Homo sapiens: one gene and its partners. Changing the gene in region 3 together with the main gene of any one other region gives a genetic interaction. Each region holds a gene or a part of one and is shown on either strand. Other genes may lie near its edges.

Region 1 (7,035 bases), on a different chromosome or scaffold from region 3:
AGGGTGAGGGACAGCACAAACCTGTGCTAGGCCCTAGACTGCAGTGTTGAAATCACTTAACTCTAATTTATACATATACTTTCTTTATGTTATATATTCTCAATAGACTGGGAAGTATGTTTCTCAAACTTTAAATCCTCTGACAAACATAAACGAAGATTGTTTTTGATACGTGAAATTTCAAAATAAATACTGCACTGAAACAAAAGACAAAATACTGCTTTGCTTTTCAAAGTATAGTTCACTATTGAGCAACATGGATTTGAACTGCATGGGTTCACTCATACACAGATTTTTTGTTTTGTTTTGTTCAACCAATGCACATTTGAAAATACAATATTTGAGGGATGCAAACCCCTCAAATATATGGAGGGCCAAAACTTCACGTGTGGGTTCCGCAGGGCTAACTGCAGATTTGGGTATACCTGGGGTTCTTGGAACCCATCCCTCGTGTATACTGAAAAAAGACTTCTATTTGTGTAACTGCCAAGATTGATATATCTCCTAGTTACCCTCACCATCATTTCATTCCCATTGAGAAGAATTGATTTGAAGCTTAGCTTCATACTGATGTATAGTGAGAAACTCTATAATGTGCATTCTAAAATGTTGCTAAATTATGATAATCTACCTAATTTTACCTGATTTGCTACTTTTCTACTTATAAACAGTTGGAGTAGTGATTAAAAGTAGTCACATTATAGGCAAATGTATCATATATAGATAAAACTATTTTTATTGAATTTGTACCAGCATCTTGCCAAGTTTTGTGTGATTGAAGGGTATTTTTTTCTTACTGATTTTTTTGTGTTACATGCTCACTTTTGATCCTAACCCCACATGAGTTGCTATTCCTCTGTATTACAGATTTTCACTTAATGTCACAGAGACATGGCCTGAATCATTCCACTATATTTAAAGTTAAAATAGACACTGAAAATAAGTTTAGATTGTTTCATATAGAATAGAGAATTCTAAGCATTTAGAAGGTACCTTCTCATTTCTGTCATTTCTCCTTAAGTAGCTCCTTAAAAAGAGATGGTGAAATATAGACACTTCCTTTTTTCCTTTGAGTTACAACAAATACTTTGGAACTTTTGTTTGTAATTAATATTAATGTTGAAATATGTCATATTTCTCAGACTTTTTAAATATGAGATTTCTAGTTTATCCTTTTTTGACATATTAGTAAATACAGAATTATATAATTCAAAAAACAGGCACAGCTTTGTTAGCTTTTGACATTGTATAATATGATACTATCAAATTTTTAATAATATATGCCCAGAATAACCATATAATTTATCACCAAACCAAGGCATGGTTACGCTATGCATACATGTGCATTTATAATGGAAAATATAGGCTTCAGTTAAATTTATGCCCAGAAAATGGTATTTAAGAAAGAAATAGGCACAGTTTCAGTGTTGTTATCAGTAGTTAATGGACTGAAAGCCAAGAATAGTGATATTCAGATATTGCTATAATGTTCTTTTATTAGTCTCTTAACTGTGCCATTTTCAAGTGTTTTTGGCCTGAATGTTTTATTCAGGCTTATAAAGGCTATGTGTGCCATGCCCAGAATGGAGTTTTCCTTTGTCATACCAGTAGGAAAATGTACCTCCCTGAAGGGCTTGTGTGTTTTGTAAAAGGACAAAATGCCTTTATTGTTACTGAGAAGATTGAGATTAATAGGTTTAAAAGGTGTGTGTATGTGTCTGTATATGCCCTTTTTTTCTTTTTAAAGATATGGACTTGTTAAATCATTTTCCTAATTTCAGTGCAGTATATTTGTATTTTTCCCCCAGGTGCATGAATACCTCAGAAGTAAACTCTGTTCACTGTATGAAAATGACTGCATATTTGACAAATTTGAATGTTGTTGGAATGGATCTGACAGGTAATTAAGTCAAACCTCTCAAATATGAATTTTATTAAAGAAAAGAAACAACTATTTCATTCCAGGTCCTAACTTCGTCTCTAGGGATTCCTTGAAATAAATTTAGTAATTTTAGATATAGCACAGCAGTACTGGTAGATAAAAAATTAAAGCATTGTATTTCACTAGTAAATATAAAAGTACACAAATTCTAGGTAATCTAAATTATTTAAATGTCTAGAATTTTTTTTCTTTTATGAACCAGATCACATTTCTGACATGCTAACCATTAAAACGGTGAAGCTTCAGCTTGGTTGTTATTCTTCCATTAAACTGTTGCAGAAACATTCAGGCGGCAGATAACTCATTTGGATTGTTAGAAACACCAGGTTTTCCAGATGCTACATTAACACCTCATAGAAGTGGTCTTTCATATGTATGTTATGTATGATGTTAACCATAATATATATGGTTAAAATTTTAGTAGTAGTTATCCTTTGCTTTTTATAATTTCCAGTTTTGCCGTAGTGTAATTCCTTTTTCGTATTCATTTTTAGTAAAATGTTACCCATTATTTAAAGATAAAATAAGTCTTACTTTGAGTCTTTTAGTTGTCTATTTGCCACTATGTTCCAGTAGAACAGAAAGTAGTAAAACATAATTTTGGAATTAAACTGACATTTAAAGTAATCAGAGATACTTCAACAACAGTTTTATCACAGAGCTTAATATGATTCCGATTTCATGGTGTTGTGTGTTACAGAGGATAATAGAACTTATAGAATGTTTTCTTTCATCTGGCTTTTAAAATTATCTGATTTTTGACATAAGGACTAGTAAACCTAGAGTTCTGTTAATAGCAAACATTGCCTTTGAGTGCTACTACTAAACCTGAGGCATCAAGAAGAAAGAAGGAAAGGGAAGAAGAAAAAAAAGATTAACAAATTTGAAGAGTAAAGAGATACTGAAATAAGGTGTGGCGCACAGCTACAACCAGTTTTTCATTGTATTTAAGCAGATAATTAGCAGTTTTATGTTCTATTATCAGAAAAAAACGATTTGTTTTCCTTAATATTAAAAATTTTTTTTTAACTATTTCAAACTTAGAGAAAATTTGTTAGAATAACACAAAGAACTCTTGGCTGGCCTTGACCCAGGTTCCCCTGTCGCTGTTTGCTGTATCACGTGTTCTATTCTCTGTTTATTTATAGCTATATTTGTCCACATAGGTACGTGCGCATGTGCTCACATGCAACTTGTGTGCCACATGGGAATTTATTCCATTTACGCCAGATGTGATGCCCATAACCCTAAATTCTTGAATGAGTATTTCCTGACAAAAACACTTTCCAACATAGTGACAGTGCAGCATCCAAAGCAACATTCACAGCGATGCAGTACTGCCATCTAATCCGGAGACCCACTGAAACTGACCAGTTACTGTAACTATGTCCTTTATGGCACAGAACAAAGTCAGTCTGGTTCAGTATCCAGCATTTAGTTGTCATCTCTTGTTAGTCTCCTTTATTCTGAAACAGTTCCTCAGTCTCTCCTTGTCTTTCATGACCTTGGCATTTTGAAGAACACAGGCCAGTTATTTTATAGAATGTTTCCTCATGATTAGATTCAGGCTATACATTTTTGGCAGGAATACCACAGAAATGCTGGCCTAATGATACCTTTTTAAAGTTTCAAGTAGCCACAGCCTAGGTGTCCTAATACATTAAAACCACGCAAACTCAGATGATATGGGGATGTCAATCTAAATTACACAAGCCATTTTTAAAGAAATACAGTTTTGTCATCTTCAGGGGCACGCATTACCTTGAGTTTGATTAAAGTTGTTGCCAAGTGTCCTTTGGGAATTGACATTACTAAATAGATAATAATTTGTACTCAGTAGGTGACCTTTGTATGTAAGTATTACTTTGAACAATTCCCCAGTATCCTGTAATCCTTATTTACAATAATAATTTGAACCATTGGTAAGCAGCGGTAGCAGACCCTTTCCAAATTAAGAGCTTCAAACTTACGAAGTTTTGTTTGTGAGGATACTTAATAAATGTCGAGCAGTAATGGGTGGCAAATAGAACTGACAAGGAAGTGTCTTGGGCAGTTTAAAAATTTTGCCACCCCTTTAAACTGATACTTTTATAAATATTTGCTTAAAATGTTCTAAGTGGTAAAAGTAAAATGATGTTCTGTTAAGAAAATATTACAGCCTGGGCAACATAGCAAGACCCTGTCTCTACAAAATATTTAAAAATTATCTGGACATGGCAGCATATGCCTGTAGTCACAGCTACTCAGGAGACTGAAGTGCAAGGACTGCTTGAACCCAGGAGGTTGAGGTTGTGGTTGCAGTGAGCTGTGATTGTGCCACCACATTTCAACCCGGGTGACAGAGTGAAACCCTGTCTTGAAAAATACATATATATAGGCCGGGCACGGTGGCTCACGCCTGTAATCCCAGCACTTTGGGAGGCCAAGGCCGGCGGATCATGAGGTCAGGAGATTGAGACCATCCTGGCTAACGTGGTGAAACCCTGTCTCTACTGAAAATACAAAAAAAACTAGCCGGGCGTGGTGGCGGACGCCTGTAGTCCCAGCTACTCAGGAGGCTGAGGCAGAAGAATGGCATGAACCCAGGAGGCAGAGCTTGCAGTGAGCCGAGATCGCACCACTGCACTCCAGCCTGGGCAACAGAGCGAGACTCCGTCTCAAAAAAAAAAAAATTATACACACACACACACACACATTATGTACCACTTAATATTCTCAGGAGCAGATTATAACATAAGCATTTATTAAATGTGATTATCTGAACCAGACAATACCCTGAGAAGATTATTTATTTATGAGACAGAGTCTCACTCTGTCACCCAGGCTGGAGTGCAGTGGCACAATCTTGGCTCAGTGCAACCTCCGCCTCCCGGGTTCAAGGGATTCTCCTGCCTCAGCCTCCTGAGTAGCTGGGACTACAGGCACGTGCCACTACACCCAGCTAATTTTTTTTTTTTTCCGAGACGGAGTCTTGCTCAGTTGCCCAGGCTGGAGTGCAGTGGCACGACCTTGGCTCACTGCAAGCTCCACCTCCCGGGTTCACACCATTCTCCTGCCTCAGCCTCCCGAGTAGTTGGGACTACGGGTGCCTGCCACCACGCCAGGCTAATTTTTTTTGTATTTTTAGTAGAGACCGGGTTTCACCATGTTAGCCAGAATGGTCTCGATCTCCTGACGTCGTGATCTGCCCACCTTGGCCTCCCAAAGTGCTGGGATTACAGGCGTGAGCCACTGCGCCCGGCCCAAAAAATGTAAATCATAAGATAAAGCATTGGTTTCTTGTGAACAGCTACAGCTACTTCATGCGGGGTTCTTTTGTTTTAGAACCTGTGAGTTCCACAGATAGTTGCTCCTTTGAGAAGCTGGCTGGCCTGGTTGATCACATAGCCTGTAGTTGCAAAAATACTTAACAACGATAATTCTGCACTCCTAAGAAGTTTTACTTGAGGATGCTGTCAACTTTGCTGATAGTTTTGGTAGCCATAAAAAGAATAAGCAGAAAACCCAGTTAATTAGTACCGTATTTCTGGTTTATTCTAGTGATTGAGTTGATGTCAACAGCCCCTGTCCCTTAGTTTAAATCTGCTTTTGAAGTAGCTTCCTATGGTTTAATTGCCGAATCATTTTACTTGAAAACAATTTCTTGTTCTGCTTGTTTGACTGAGTGTACTGTCTATTTTCACAGTGTTGTCATGACTGGATCTTACAATAATTTCTTCAGAATGTTTGACAGAAACACAAAGCGAGACATAACCCTAGAAGCATCGCGGGAAAACAATAAGCCTCGCACAGTTCTGAAGCCTCGCAAAGTCTGTGCAAGTGGCAAGCGAAAGAAAGATGAAATAAGTGTTGACAGCCTAGACTTCAATAAGAAAATCCTTCACACAGCCTGGCACCCCAAGGAAAATATCATTGCCGTAGCTACTACAAACAATCTGTATATATTTCAAGACAAAGTGAATTAGGGTTGGCATTCCTAGCAGAAGAACCCACTTCCTGCTTAGTTGAGATAGTTGAATCTAGCATTCGTTCCTATAAAAGAGAGAGGTCCATTGTGGCGCCCCTTTCCAGTGTTTGACAGTGTGCCATTCGACAACACATTGTTATAGCTACATGGAGAAAGCTCTGTGGATTCATCACTGTGGTGTTCTCCATGTCTGCTAGCCATTTAGGTAAGGGTAGGGCACTTTTAATTTAAATGACTTCTTGCACCATCTTGCCTAATGGACTAGATTGGACTGTATCAACATTGATTTACTCCACTTTTTATGCCTTCCATTGTGATGACGTCAAACACAGTGAAAGCCTTCAGTCATGCTATGGGATTTAATTGTGTATCCTCATTACTGTATCATTTGTGGGGTACACCCCTTCCCCCTTTTTTTAAATTAAATACAGCTCATTCTTACTGTGGCTTGTAGCATTCCTCCTCTTCTGGCCTCCTGGACTGCTCCCCTTCATCTCTTACCCTTGCCCCCTCCACCCGGTCTTGGTGGTGGTATATTAAAAAAAGAAAGAATGAAAGCACACAAAATGAGTCAGTTTGGGGTCAGTGGTATAAAGGGGGTATATGTTGCAAACAAATGTTTTAGTAACAGTTGGCTGTAATCACTCCTCGCCGTGTCTGGCACTGAAAATAAGGAAAAAAAACCTACTACTGAATAAAAGTGACAAAGAATGGAGAATCTGGTTTTCTTTTTCTTTTTAACCTACCTCTTGTAGCCAATATTTTGTGTCATACCTTTGGGCACAGTGAAACAAAATGGGTTTTCATTGTTTATTGGTATTTTTGTTAATTATTTTTAACAAGTGTTCTTTTACATGCAGGAGGAGAGGTATTGGTTCTCTATGAACATATTTTGAATATAGGTTTTATTAAGGATTTCACAATCTATAAATGCTACTAGTTTTTTTTTTTTTTTTTACCATCATGAGGGTATTGGATACATTGTGTCTCTATTTAACTCATTATGTGTTAATGAAATTGTTGTAAATGGGAACCAAATTTGTAGAACTTAATTTCTACTTTTTAGAGTGCTTAATTTCATTTTTGCCTTACTAAATAGTCAAAGACTTATAAAACATTTTTAACA
Region 2 (7,035 bases), on a different chromosome or scaffold from region 3:
ATATTGGGCTACTCTGTCCTAGGCATGGTCCTCAGCTGAGAGGTCGCAGCCATCCCAAGACAGAGGGGTCCTTGCCACATGGAGACTGCATTCTAGTAGGGAATACAGCAAACTGGCTGATAAGCCATATGACACACAATGTTGAGTAGTGATAAGGACCTGGGAGAAAAAGAAAGCCCAGGAGAATGGTGGAGGGGCCGTTTTAAGATAAGGCGGTCTGGGCCAGGTACAGTGGCTCACGCCTGTATCCCCAGCACTTTGGGAGGCTGAGGTGGGCGGATCATGAGGTCAGGAGATCGAGACCATCCTGGCTAACACAGCGAAACGCTGTCTCTACTAAAAATACAAAAAATTAGCCGGGCGTGGTGGCATGCGCCTGTAATCCCAGCTACTTGGGAGGCTGAGGCAGACGAATCACTTGAACCCAGGAGGCAGAGGCTGCAGTGAGCTGAGATGGCGCCACTGCACTCCAGCCTGGGCGACAGAGCAAGATTCTGTCTCAAAAAAAAAAAAAAAAGATAAGGTGGTCAGGGAAGGCCTCTCTGAGGAGGTGAAGCTTCAGCTGGCTCTAAACCAGGGGAGCGGGAGAGACGCAGTGTAGGACAGTATCGGGGAAGAGCAGGCCTGTGTCTTCTCCGGTGGCCTCAGGGAATGAGGGAGAAGGAAGGTGCTGGGGAGGCTGGCAAGGCCTGGAGGATGCAGGCCTTGTGGGCAGGACCTGGGAGTTGCGATGTCACTCTCCGTGGCAGGAAGCTACTGGGGCTTCGAGGGGAGAAGTGATATGCTTTGATTTACCTTCTTAAAAGATTGCCCCAACTGCTGGGTGGAGAACAGGATGACAGGGGCAAGCATGGAGACAGGGAGGCCAGTTAGAGATGGCGTGATTCAGGCCAGGATGGAGGGGTGAGAACTGGTATGCAGTTCCAAAGTAGAGCTGATAGGACTTGCCCAGTGTCTGGGATCTTATCCAGTGGATGCCCAGAGCTTGGGTCTGGGGGATGAAGTGGGTTTAATCTGCCAAGGGTTGGGGATGTCATTTGCTCCTGGAGCTCCCAAGGGACTTGGGGAAGGTTGTTCCCAACCCCTTTCTTCCCTTCCCAGGGGCTGCCGGGAGGCTATCAAAAGGATCGCCTATGAGTTTGTAGAGATGAAGGCCAAAGAGGGCGTGGTGTATGTGGAGGTGCGGTACAGTCCGCACCTGCTGGCCAACTCCAAAGTGGAGCCAATCCCCTGGAACCAGGCTGAGTGAGTGATGGGCCTGGAAGGGGCCATGCTGAGGGTGTGGCTGGGAGGCTCAGCTCTGAGACTGGAAGGGCGAACTGCTGGGAATCCCTGACCCAAGCAAGACCTTGTTCTTGCCCCCAGTCTGGTCCATGGCCTCAGAAAGATGGGTTTAACTCTGTCACAAGAGACGTGGTTCCCATCCTCCCTTTGCCGTTATGTTCTTACCTTGGGCACAAGTGTTTGGCTGTGTCTTGCTCTGGCCACAGGCCTGCTGTCCAGGAATGTTAACCTGCTTAGCCACCCAGGATTTCTGAGGGGTCTCCCTTGTCACTGATGCTGATCAGATCTCTAAAGGCCCTAAAGGTCCTGCTCTAACTTCATAACTGAAGTGAGTCTGGCCCATTTCTAGCCCCCTGCCTGGGCCCCCATGGATCTCTAAGTGGTATCACAAAACCACCCTGCCCCATTTTCTGAGCCATGATTCTGATACATATAGAATGTGAACATCATGGCAGGCCCAAGCTTAGCAATGCTGTCCATCTGGGGGTGGGGAGGGCCATGTTGACACCCCACACCTCCCACTAAGATCTAGGAGCACCCAGCTGCTTTAAGAGCTAGAGGGACATGCTAGGGCCTGGGGGCATCTCTGCCAGTCTTTCCTCTGAGGCAGTGGGTCAGTGGGGGAGGAGGGTCCTCCCCAAAGCCTCCTCTTCCTCCTCTGTCCCAGTCCCAGAGCTGCCCTTTAGGCCTTCCTTTTGCCTCAGGCCCATCCCTACTCCTCTCCTCACACAGAGGGGACCTCACCCCAGACGAGGTGGTGGCCCTAGTGGGCCAGGGCCTGCAGGAGGGGGAGCGAGACTTCGGGGTCAAGGCCCGGTCCATCCTGTGCTGCATGCGCCACCAGCCCAGTGAGTAGGATCACCGCCCTGCCCAGGGCCGCCCGTCTCACCCTGGCCCTGACCTCCTGGCCTAGCAGTGGGGCTGTACCTGATCTCCCCTGTGCCCCACAGCCCCATGGTGTCCCCTTGAGCCCACTGGCATGAACTTGGGGCTTCATGAAACAACTGGAGACCTCCTAGGCAGGCTCAGAACTTCTGGAGATGTTCTCCCCAGGGACACCATGCCTTTATAGCCACCCTGCAGGAAGCTCAACACCAAATAGGAACGTAACTATTGAAAAAAAAATCTAGGCTAGATTCTGATCAGCCCATAGTCCTCCCTCGAGACCCAGTGGACCAGGCCCCATCCTGTCTGGGCCTGAATAGGTCTGATTTCCAAGATTTCTGAGGGGTCTCCCTTGTCACTGACGCAGATCAGATCTCTAGAGTTTGTGCCTCATGGTGCACAGCCTCACTGTGTGATATTGGGCAGGTCACACTGCTGCTCTGGTTATGCACCAAGACACCTCAGTTGTGCACTGTCACAAGGAGATGATCACACTTACTTCATTCCTCTACCCTCAGGATTAGTAAGAACCAAAGAGCTACCTGCACGCATTTCCTCTAATCCTCGCAGCAGCCTGCAAAGCAGAACTACCATTGCTTAGTCCCATTTGACAGATGAGGAAACTGAGGTGGAGTGAGGTGCAGCCTCTTGCAAGGCACAAACCCTGGATTTGTATCCGGGGACATCTAGTTCCAAAGCCTGTGTTCATTCATTCTTTCTTAAACACTTCAGAATAACTTTATTGGTTAAGAGTACCTAATACATTAGCGAGATACTTCCCAATACTAGTGTGAGTTCTATTTTAGATGACGTGTTAAACGGTCCTCCGTTTCCTCATCTGCGCATGGGAATAAGCCTACCATGAGTGTTGTTGGAAACACCAGGTGAGAGAAGGGTCCGTGTCATTTACTGAGCTCAGGCCCCGTCCTTGGTGCTTTACACACATGGCCTCGGCAAAGCCTGGCCGTGACCCTGTGCAATAGCTGGCAGGGTTCTTTCTGAAAAGGGCGGAAACTGAGGCCATAAGCAGAGCAGTTTTCCGCAGGCCATGTGGTTAGGACATAGCAGTTAGGATTTGAAGACACTGAGCCCTGTTTTGTGCTGGCCTCCCATGGGGGGTTTGGGTGGGACAGCAGGCAGGTAGGCTGGGAGGTCTCTCCATGGTGCTGGTGACAGAGCCTGGGTGGGCATCTCGCCCACAGACTGGTCCCCCAAGGTGGTGGAGCTGTGTAAGAAGTACCAGCAGCAGACCGTGGTAGCCATTGACCTGGCTGGAGATGAGACCATCCCAGGAAGCAGCCTCTTGCCTGGACATGTCCAGGCCTACCAGGTGGGTCCTGTGAGAAGGAATGGAGAGGCTGGCCCTGGGTGAGCTTGTCTCCCACCCATAGTTGGGAGAAATCACAAGAACCAGGGACCATGGTGTCTCCTGAGTTCTGAAGTGTGTCTTTGTTGGGTCTTAAGGCTTGGAACTGGAATCCCCCTGGGCCAGGCGTGGTGGTTCATGCCTGTGATCCCAGCACTTTGGGAGGCGAGGCAGGAGGATTGCTTGAGCCTAGGAGTTTGAGACCAGCCAGGGCAACATAGTGAGATCCATCTCTGCAAATACAAAAAAAAGTAGTCAGGCATGGTGGTGCATGCCTGTAGTCCCAGCTACTTGGGAGGCTGAGGTGGGAGAATTGCTTGAGTCCAGGAAGTCAAAGCTGCAGTGAGCTGTGATAATGCGACTGCACTCCAGCCTGGGTGACAGAGGGAGACCCTGTCTCAAAAAAAAAAAAAAGGAAGAAAGAAGAAAGAGAAAAGAAAGAGAAAGAAAGAGAGGAAGGAAGGAAAAAGAGGAAGGGAGGGAGGGAGGAAGGAAGGAAAGAAGGAAGGAAGGGAGAGAGAAAGAAAAGCCTCCACTTGGTGTTGGGAGTCCTGTGCTGAGCCTGCTTCTGGCTGTGATTTGCTGTGTGAACCTGGGCAACACTGTGTCTTCTCTGGGCCTCTGTTTCTTCTATTGGGATGACTGAGTTGGAGCCGACATCTCAAAAGTCGCTTCCAGCGTGATGATGAATGGGCCTCCTGTGGAGGGTGCAGCATGGTGGAGAAGTCAGGGCTCTGGAGTCCCACTGCCCGGGCTCAGAGCTTGGTTCCACACTTCCTGTCTGACCTTGGTCACATTACTTGAATCTCCTGAGCTTCAGTCCTTCATCATAAAATGGGTGGGATAATAGTTGTGAATATTAGATAATGTATACAAGTCACTTCATATACTACCTGACACATGGTAACTGGCTAATGAGTGACAGCTACCACTTAGATAAGGACTTGGAGGGTAAAAGACCAGGTTTCCCCATGCTGTTGAAGCAGGCAGCATGACTAGGATGGTTCAATCTCCACAGCATGGTCAAGGCAGGGCCTGCCGGGGCCCTCCCGCTAGGGCACCCATGACCTGGCTCTCCCCCTTCCAGGAGGCTGTGAAGAGCGGCATTCACCGTACTGTCCACGCCGGGGAGGTGGGCTCGGCCGAAGTAGTAAAAGAGGTGAGGGCCTGGGCTGGCCATGGGGTCCCTCCTCACTGCCTCCTCCCATACTTGGCTCTATTCTGCTTCTCTACAGGCTGTGGACATACTCAAGACAGAGCGGCTGGGACACGGCTACCACACCCTGGAAGACCAGGCCCTTTATAACAGGCTGCGGCAGGAAAACATGCACTTCGAGGTAAGCGGGCCAGGGAGTGGGGAGGAACCATCCCCGGCTGTCCCAACTTCCTGTATAGAGAGGCAGAAAGCAGGGCGGGTCCCAGGAACTCGAGGGGTGGCCCCAGGCCCAGACATGGGGGGAGGAATCAGCATGGCCTGGGGCCATCCCTGCCAGCCACACACCTGCTCTTCCAGATCTGCCCCTGGTCCAGCTACCTCACTGGTGCCTGGAAGCCGGACACGGAGCATGCAGTCATTCGGTGAGCTCTGTTCCCCTGGGCCTGTTCAATTTTGTTCCAGGAAGGCCAAAGAGGGAAGAAACTTTAGGGATTGGGCATCAGCCCATGCCGCGTCTTTTAGATATGAAATCTCTTCGACACCCTGGGAAGCAGGCATTGCCGTCCTCATCTTACAAATGAGGAATCCGAGGCCCAGATGTGCTGTGGCTTGACTGGGATTACCCAGCTGCTAACCAGCAGAGCTGGGGCCCTACAGCTCATCAGCTGGAGCAGAACGCTCCATTACTCTGAGGGAAGCTTCCACACTTCCAATTCTCCCAACTCTGCCCCCTGGGCATCGCATAGGAAGCAGGAGTCCCTCTGGCCAGCATGTTCTCTCTTCCTGACACCTGGCCCTTGGGACCCCTGGGCATTCCCCTGAGCGCCATCTTGAAGCTTTCCACCGGAGGGTCTGTTCCACCCTGCCTGGCTCCCATCCTGGAGTCTAACCAGGGTCAAGGCCCTCCTTCCGTCCTGTCGCCAAGCCACAGGAGCAGTATCAGGCCTTAGGAAAAAGCCGCCTTCCCCAAGACAAGGACAGCAAGAACTCAGGGTGACCATGGTCAGGCCAGCACTTATCCATCTGCCAGGCATATGAGAAGGGGAGGGGCTTCGGCTCTGATGTTCTGATGACAAGGGGGTCTTGGGGCTTGCCTTAGGGACACGTGGCACCTGTGGAGGTTCTTGGAGGCATGTGGGTATACCATGGGCTGGAAAAAGATCCAGGAGTCATCTGCACAGATATGGTGGCTGAAGGAGAAGCAGTGGCCCCAGGAGGTGGTGGAGCAAGAAGGGCCTAGGATAGAACCCAGAAGGACAATGGTATTTAAGGGACCAGCAAAAGAGACAAGTAGGAGGAAAGTCAAAAGTGTGGTGTCACAGAAATCCAGGGAAAAGGTTTCAAGAAACAGTCAACAGTGTGAAATTCTGCTATGCAAGTCGATTATGGTCAGAGCTAGGAAAGATCCATTAGATACAACAAGATGGTGGTCAGGGATCGTGCCAAGAACAGCTTCCATGGTATGTTGGAGTAGCCAGCTCCCAGTGGGACTGAGGAACAAGCAGGGTAGGGTGCAGAGGGGAAGGCTGGAGAGGGTGGCAGCCGGAGGGGGATGTTGCTTTCTTGGCTCCCACCCCCACGCCCCCACCGGCTGCCATTCTGCCTGGTTCCCATGTCTGGCCCCTCTGCTGCCTTTGCCCAGCTCTGGTCTTCAGGATGGGCTGGATTCTGGACTTTCTGGTTACATAGACTTGAACAAGTCACCTAAGTTCTGAATTTATTTCCCCCTCTGCACAAGGATCAGATCTTTCAGATCTGTTTGAGGCTGCTGTGAGGATCAAAGGCGGGTGAACGTCAATGTGTTCTGACTATTTATGTAAGAGTAAAAGGAGGCTGATTCTCTCCTCCTCCCTCTTCTGCAGGCTCAAAAATGACCAGGCTAACTACTCGCTCAACACAGATGACCCGCTCATCTTCAAGTCCACCCTGGACACTGATTACCAGATGACCAAACGGGACATGGGCTTTACTGAAGAGGAGTTTAAAAGGCTGGTGAGTGGGTGTGAGCCATACTGGCCTTGACTCGGGTTTGGGAGTATGGTATCTACAGGTCCAGTCCGGGGCCTGGAATCTTTGGAGAGAGGGAGTGAGTCTGCCTCAACAGTCCAAGACAAGCCCAACCTAGACACTTTCCACAGAGAAGACATCTTTGTGTTGACGTCCTGACCTAGGACCAGGTTTTTGATCCTTTGCTTGGGTTGAGTGCCTTTAAAGAATCCAGTGAAAGCTGTCAACCCTCTCCCCAGAAAGGTGTGTGCAGCAGCTATGAAGTCTTGCACACTCTCTTCAGGTTGTTCTTAAATCCCAGGCTGAATAAGTCCATTCCTGCACGTGTCTGCGAGGT
Region 3 (7,035 bases):
GCAATGTATTGCCTACACAATTTTTTCTTTGTAGACATTCTAGTTACATGAAATCATTGTATACATTTTATACATTTACAGATCTAAAATAGCATGCTGTTTCCTCTTGGTTTACATGAAATAATTGAGAATTTTCTAGGATTGCTTTTTGTATATTAAGTAAATTCTATGTTTGCTATTAATACTTAAATATTCGATGTAGAATCAAAGGATTGATATTTCAGAACACTGAGAAGTACATAAAATCTGGATCTAAATTTATAATTTAAATTTATAATTTAAAGCTATTGTATTAAATAAGTTTATCAGTTAAAAACTGATAAAGAGGTATTAGGATCTCCAGTGTGACTCAGGAGAGAGTTGAGGGTAAAAGAAATGGAGTTAATGAGAGAGATCAAAATATAAAAAGATAACTGATAAAAGAACTTTCATAATAAAACTGTTTCACGAAGGACCTCACAGGCATTTGTGGTTTTGTACTGTGAGACTATATGAAGTTTAAATCTGAGCCAGGTGTGGTGGTACATGCCTGCAATCCTAGCTACTTAGGAGGCAGGAGGATTGCTTGAGCTCAAGAGTTCCAGGTTACAGTAAGTTATGATCTCACGCCAGGGCACTCCAGCCTGGGTGAAAGAACAAGACCGTATCTCTAAAAAAAGTTAAATTATAAAAGAAGTATAATCTGTAAAATATTTAGTGAAATTGGCTTAGATTTGCCCAGACTTCCCCTTTGGCATTATATTTCAGGAATGAGAAAAATAATTAGCATAGCATTTAGAAGAAATGGGGGGAATTTCAAGGTTACTAAATAAATCAGGGTTAGTATAAGAGGAAGCAGAGGCTTTGAAGTCATGGCTTGCATTCTTGATTTGGATATTGGTTTTCTCTTTATAATTTTTCTGTGATGACGCCTTTTGCCACCTAACACAGGTAAATGTGAGTTAAGCCCCATATGTGTTAGTGGACTCCTGAATCTTTTGTTGGCATTTGCTTCTGTTTGCCTAAGCACATTTGTAAATGTCTAAGCTTCAAATTAAGAAGCTATGTGGTTGCTACCTGATTATATTTAGTCAATAAACTTACTTTCATATTTGTTTTAGAGCCAGACATAGGCATGCCTGAACCAGATGCTCAGAGATTCTTCCATCAACTCATGGCAGGGGTGGTAGGTATAGTTGTCTATTTCCCTTTTACTTAAAATTAGAGTGAATACATTACATTACCAAATTCTAGTGTGTTTCTCTCTGCATCCCTCTTAGGTTTATCTGCATGGTATTGGAATAACTCACAGGGATATTAAACCAGAAAATCTTCTGTTGGATGAAAGGGGTAAGTTTAGCATTTTATCACTACCTAAAATAAAATAAAATAATTACCTAAATTATTTTAATTACCTAATTATTTTAATATAGCCATACAAGGCAAAATCAAGTCTTTTTGCATTACTGGAATTTCAAGACAAGATCTGAAAAATCAAGGAAATTTTGGAGACTTCGTATATTTGGAAATCACAAGTCTCATTTTGCAATACAAGTGCGGATCAGGTAGAGAAATCTGACCTAGGTGCAAGCCTAGCTCACTATATGTATAAGAATAATTTTTTTTTTTTTGATACAGGCTCACTGTGTTGTCCAGTCTGGGGTGCACTGTATTATCACAGTTCACTGCAGCCTTGACCTCCTAGGCTCAAGCAATCCTACCATCTCAGCTTCCCGAGTAGCTAGGACCAACCACAGGCAGGTGCCACCATGCCTGGCTAATTTTTGATTTTTTGAAGAGGTGGAGTCTTCCTGTGTTGCTCAGGCTAGTCTTGAACTCCTGGACTCAAGCAGTTTACCAGCCTTAGCCTCCCAGAGTGTTGGGATTATAGACGTGAGCCACCATGCCTGGCCAAGAATAGTTTAAAATAATCCTTTAATGGATTAATAAAGGGAAGTTCCTGTGGAATACCCTGGACCTTAGTCTTGTCCTGTTCACTCTTTTTTTATGTATGACGTGGATAAAAATGTAAGAAATTTAGTTATATTTTCTGAATGTCATCAAATTGAGAAGGATGGATAGCGAAAGCTTTAAGCTTACAGGGTCAGAATCAAAAAAGAAATGTCAGCTGTATGAGGCAGTAGTTTTTGTCTGGTTTAATGCTTTATTCTTAGTATTAGAATAGTGCTTAACAAATGGTCAGCTTTTTTTTTTTTTTGAAACAGAGTCTTGCTGTGTTGCCCAGGCTGGAGTGTAGTGACATGATCTCGGCTCACTGTAACCTCTACCTCTCTGGTTCAGGTGATTCTTGTGCCTTAGGCCCCTGAGTAGCTGGGATTACAAGCCTGAGTCACCACACCTGGCTCATTTTTATATTTTTAGTAGAGATGGGGTTTTGTCATATTGGCCAGGCTGGTCTCGAGCTCCTGGCCTCAAGTGATCTGCCTCCCTTGGCCTCCCAGAGTGCTGGGATTATAGGTGTGAGCCGCTGTACCCAGCCTATACATGCTTTTTTCTTATGTGCATATGGATTTTACTTTTTACCCCTTTAAACTGAGTTTATATGACATAAAAATCTTTATTTTTATTTAAAACTTTAAAAATTCAGGTACACAAAAATTCTTATGTATTATAATGAAATGTAAATATATGTATATCAACCCACCTGGTTTAAAAATACAACATTATTCGTATATAAGAATGCTCACAGTGGTGATGTTTTTAATATAGCAGGAAACTAACCCAAATGTCTGTCAACAATAAATTATGAAATGCATGGCTTTTCAAGCCATGTCACAAGCAGTGACACAAGCATGTCACAAGCAGTGACATGGATGAATTTCAGGTATATAATGATGTAGAGCAAAAAGAGACAGTTGCAAAAGAATTCATATGGTCTGATTCTGTTTATACAAAGTTCAAAAATATGTAAAACCTAGTATATTGTTCAAGTATGTAAACATGGAGAAAAAAACATGCAGAAAAGCAAGGGTATAATAAAACCAAATTCAGAATGGTCTAAGAAAGTAGGGGAGGGAATGTATTTAAGGAAGTATTTAAAGATTTCAAAGGAAATAGAGCATTGTTTTTCTAAAGTGAGTGGGTGTTTATTACATTGTTATTCTTTATATCTTGTATTAATATACAAGATATAATTCTTTGTTTCTATTTAATATTTAGGAGTCTTTTAAAAAAAGAAATAAAATGTTACCAGTATTTAATGTCCTCCTGTTTATTTCATCACAAATATATTCTTCCTTTGTTTTTCTAAGAGCTAAACACATTCCTACATTTAAATTTTATTATGTGCAGTTCTCTAACATAGCTGAGTATTATGTTGCAGACATAACAAAGTCCAAGGAATACTATAGTTATCCATTAGTATTTTAAGTGATTACTACTCATAAGTAATTTGAAACTCAATCTCAGTGGTTTGTCCAATAGTGTCATATTTAACTACTGAAAAGATAATCAACTGGGTGCAGTAGCTCATGCCTGTAATCCCAGAGGCTGAGGTGGGACGATTGAGTGATTCTAGGAGTTTGAGACCAGCCTAGACAACATAGACCCTGTCTTTATGAAAAATTAAAAAAAAAAATTAGCTAGACATGGTGGTGCACACCTGGAGTCCCAGCTACTTGGAAGGCTGAAGCAGGAGGATTGATCACTTCAGCCTAGGAGGTCAAGGCTGCAGTAAGCTGTGATCACATCACTACACTCTAGTCTGGGCAGCAGAGTGAGACACTTTCTCAAAAAAAAAAAAAAAAAAAAAAAAAAAGGGTAATCACAGTAGCTACCTCCTAAGTCAGATAGAGGTAAACATTTCATTGGTTTACATATTGTGTGAATGTACTTGATTTTTAAAGAAATCAGTCCCCTATTTTGAGACATTTAAGTTGTTTCTAACTTATAAAATAGGACAGTGATGGCTTCTATCAATTTGTGTAAAAGGCCAATATAAAAATTGCGTCATGCTATAATATTTTTTATGCTATAATATTTTTTATGCCATTAGCCTTTTTGTCCCACTTACACACTATTTCATGTTAGTATGTATAGATATACCTTGTTGATTGTTTTCAAAACCTACCTCCACATTTTCCATTGTACAAATTTGGACATTTATTTACAAATAATATTGCTATGAATATTCTTATGTTTATGAATTTGTGGGATTATTTCTATGGATATAGAAGTGGGAATTGCTAGTTCAAAGAGTGAATGTTTCACAGTTTAGTATGTTTTGCCAAATTGCCCTCTGATAATAGAGGGCCTTTTCTAACTCTTAAGACTGGGTTACATTCCTTTGCTCTAAGATCCTATAGTGCTCTATATTTTTATAACCTTCATAACAGTTTTCTATTGTCAGTCTTCACTAATTTATCTATTACCTGCATTGGCTGGCATAGTGTCTGTCACTAAGTTACAGTAGATATTCACTAAACATAAGTTAAGTCCTGCCTGCAGTTTTTGTGTGTTGAAGATGGGAAGTTAGGGTGGAAGTTGGGTCTTCTGATATTTTTTTTTTGTACAGAGTTTGTCCTCTTTTTCTCAGACTCTCTACTTTGAAGAAAAAAATTACTGTGGTTTGTTGAATTTTGGTGTGTCTTCACATATTTTCTTCTGCCAACTGGGTTTGTTTGCTGCTGAGAAAGTTGTGCCTAACATACTACTGATGTTTCCTTCCTGCCCTCCACCCTACCTGATGAGGGGCCTTGCTTTACTTTCATCTCAGGTTTAGAGTGCTCTTTTCCAGAAGGGCAGCCCCTTCTGACTCCAGCCTCTTTCTTTAATCTGGTCCAGACTGTTCTGTGTGTTGATAATACTTCTTTTAAGTTAATAGAAGAGGTGAGGCCTTTTTCTACTTTTAGCATAGATGATGATTTATTTTATTTTTTTAAATTTCTTTTTGTCTATTTTGCTTATTTTAAGAGAAGTTCTACAAACCTTAAGTAACACCAGTGATTTTTTTTCAGTAAAACTTAATTCCTGTAAGTATATCTATTTGCAAAACATTTTTATTCAGTGTCATCTTTTTTTCTTTTGGTTTAGATAACCTCAAAATCTCAGACTTTGGCTTGGCAACAGTATTTCGGTATAATAATCGTGAGCGTTTGTTGAACAAGATGTGTGGTACTTTACCATATGTTGCTCCAGAACTTCTGAAGAGAAGAGAATTTCATGCAGAACCAGTTGATGTTTGGTCCTGTGGAATAGTACTTACTGCAATGCTCGCTGGAGGTAAGAGCTATTTAATCATGGTAAAACTCCTATAAAAAGTCAGATTAGTTATACTGAAATAAATGAAATAAACCAAGGAATTCATGTTTATATAATAGTTTTTGTTTTCTTTTTTAAGAGACAGGGTCTCACTCTTGGCCAGACTGGAGTACAGTGAGCTGTTATAGCTCACTGCAGCCTCAAACTTCTAGGCTCAAGCAATCCTCTGGCCTCACTCTTCCAAGTAGCTAGGACCAGTGGTGCCTGCCACAAGACATCTGGCTAAGTTTTAAAAATTCATTGTAGAGATGGGATCTTGCTGTGTTGTCCAGGCTGGTCTTAAACACCTGGTCTCAAGCAAGCCTTCTGTCTTGGTCTCCAAACTGTTAGGATTAAAGTAAAGACATGAGCCATGGTACCCAGCTTTTATAGTAGTATTTTAATAGTGTCTTGATCGGTTTGGTAACTGCTGTAACAAAGTATCATAGACTGCATAGCTTATAAACAGCAAATTTATTTCTCACAGTTCTGGAGGCTGAAAATATGAGATTAGGGGTGCCAACCTGGTCATGTTTTAGTGAGGGCCCTCTTCCTGATTTGCAGATGGCTGTCTTGCTGTGCTCTCTCATGGTGGACAGCCAAGAGAGCAGAAGCAAGCTCTATTGTGGTTTTTTTTTTTTTTTTTAGACCAGAGTCTTGCTCTGTCACCCACGCTGGAGTACAGTGATGTGATCTCAGCTCACTGCAACCTCTGCCTCCCAGGTTCTAGCAATTCTGTCCCAGGCTCCCAAGTAGCTGGGATTACAGGCATGCATCATCACACCCGGCTAATTTTTGTATTTTGAGTAGAGACAGGGTTTCACCATGTTGGCCAGACTGGTCTCAAACTCCTGACCTCAAGTGATCCCCCAACCTCAGCCTCCCAAAGTGCTGTTTTTTGGGTTTTTTGTTAAATGACCAGATGTTGTGAGATATTGTGTCTGTTTTTTGTTTTTTTGTGGTTTTTTTTGAGACAGGGTCTCACTCTATTGCCCAGGCTGGAGTGCAGTGGCACAATTCAAGGCTCACTGCAGCCTTGAGCTCCCAGGCTCAAGCGATCCTCCTGCCTCAGTCTCCTCAGTATCTGGGTCTACAGGCGTGCACCACCACACCTGGCTAATTTGTTGTGGGTTTTTTTTCACAGACGGTCTCTCCATGTTACGTAGGCTGGTCTTAAACTCCTGGGCTCAAGTAATCTGCCTACCTAAGCCTCCCAAAGTGCTGGGATTATATAATTAGTGCCCTATAAAGATACAATATTGTCCGGGCACACAAGCCCTTATTAGACATTAATAAGCTCTTAATAAGAGCACTAATACCATTTTTTGAGTGGTCCCATCACCAGGACCTAATTACGTCTCAAAGGCCCCACCTCCGAATGCCATTGCATTATGAGTTAGGATATCAACATGACTTTTGAGGGGGATACAAATATTTAGCACATTGCAAATAGTAACTTATTTATAATCCCAAAGATTTTTTAAGCTAAGGCATGCATAGTTATTAAATATCACAACACTTATCTCTCCTGTGTATCATGTAAACATTTGTGAAAACAAGACTAGGGCAAGAAATGATTCATCTGTTTTTTGGTTTTTTTTTTTTTGAGACAAAGTCTTGCTCTGTCGCCCAGGCTGCAGTGCAGCAGTGTGATCTTGGCTCACTGCAGTCTTGACCTCTTGGGTTCAAGTGATCCTCTCACTTTAGCCTCCTGAGGAGCCAGGACTACAGATGCACACCATCACGCCCAGCTAATTTTATTTATTTTTTGTAGAGATGGGGTCTCACTATGTTGCC

What was found. Genes that interact genetically often act in the same process or in processes that back each other up.
Region 1: changes in CHEK1 (region 3) and PPP2R2A are lethal when combined (synthetic lethality), as found in Homo sapiens cells (one study listed by BioGRID).
Region 2: changes in CHEK1 (region 3) and ADA are lethal when combined (synthetic lethality), as found in Homo sapiens cells (2 studies listed by BioGRID, with this or other methods).

The regions. Positions count from the first base shown.
Region 1 is NC_000008.11:26,364,507-26,371,541, forward strand, and holds part of PPP2R2A (serine/threonine-protein phosphatase 2A 55 kDa regulatory subunit B alpha isoform), read left to right. Parts: intron 1-1,808; coding exon 1,809-1,900; intron 1,901-5,627; coding exon 5,628-5,907; 3' UTR 5,908-7,035. UniProt on the Homo sapiens protein: Substrate-recognition subunit of protein phosphatase 2A (PP2A) that plays a key role in cell cycle by controlling mitosis entry and exit. Involved in chromosome clustering during late mitosis by mediating dephosphorylation of MKI67.
Region 2 is NC_000020.11:44,620,666-44,627,700, reverse strand, and holds part of ADA (adenosine deaminase), read left to right. Parts: intron 1-1,101; coding exon 1,102-1,245; intron 1,246-2,016; coding exon 2,017-2,132; intron 2,133-3,371; coding exon 3,372-3,499; intron 3,500-4,622; coding exon 4,623-4,694; intron 4,695-4,770; coding exon 4,771-4,872; intron 4,873-5,048; coding exon 5,049-5,113; intron 5,114-6,553; coding exon 6,554-6,683; intron 6,684-7,035.
Region 3 is NC_000011.10:125,628,132-125,635,166, forward strand, and holds part of CHEK1 (serine/threonine-protein kinase Chk1), read left to right. Parts: intron 1-1,100; coding exon 1,101-1,165; intron 1,166-1,259; coding exon 1,260-1,329; intron 1,330-5,031; coding exon 5,032-5,220; intron 5,221-7,035. UniProt on the Homo sapiens protein: Serine/threonine-protein kinase which is required for checkpoint-mediated cell cycle arrest and activation of DNA repair in response to the presence of DNA damage or unreplicated DNA.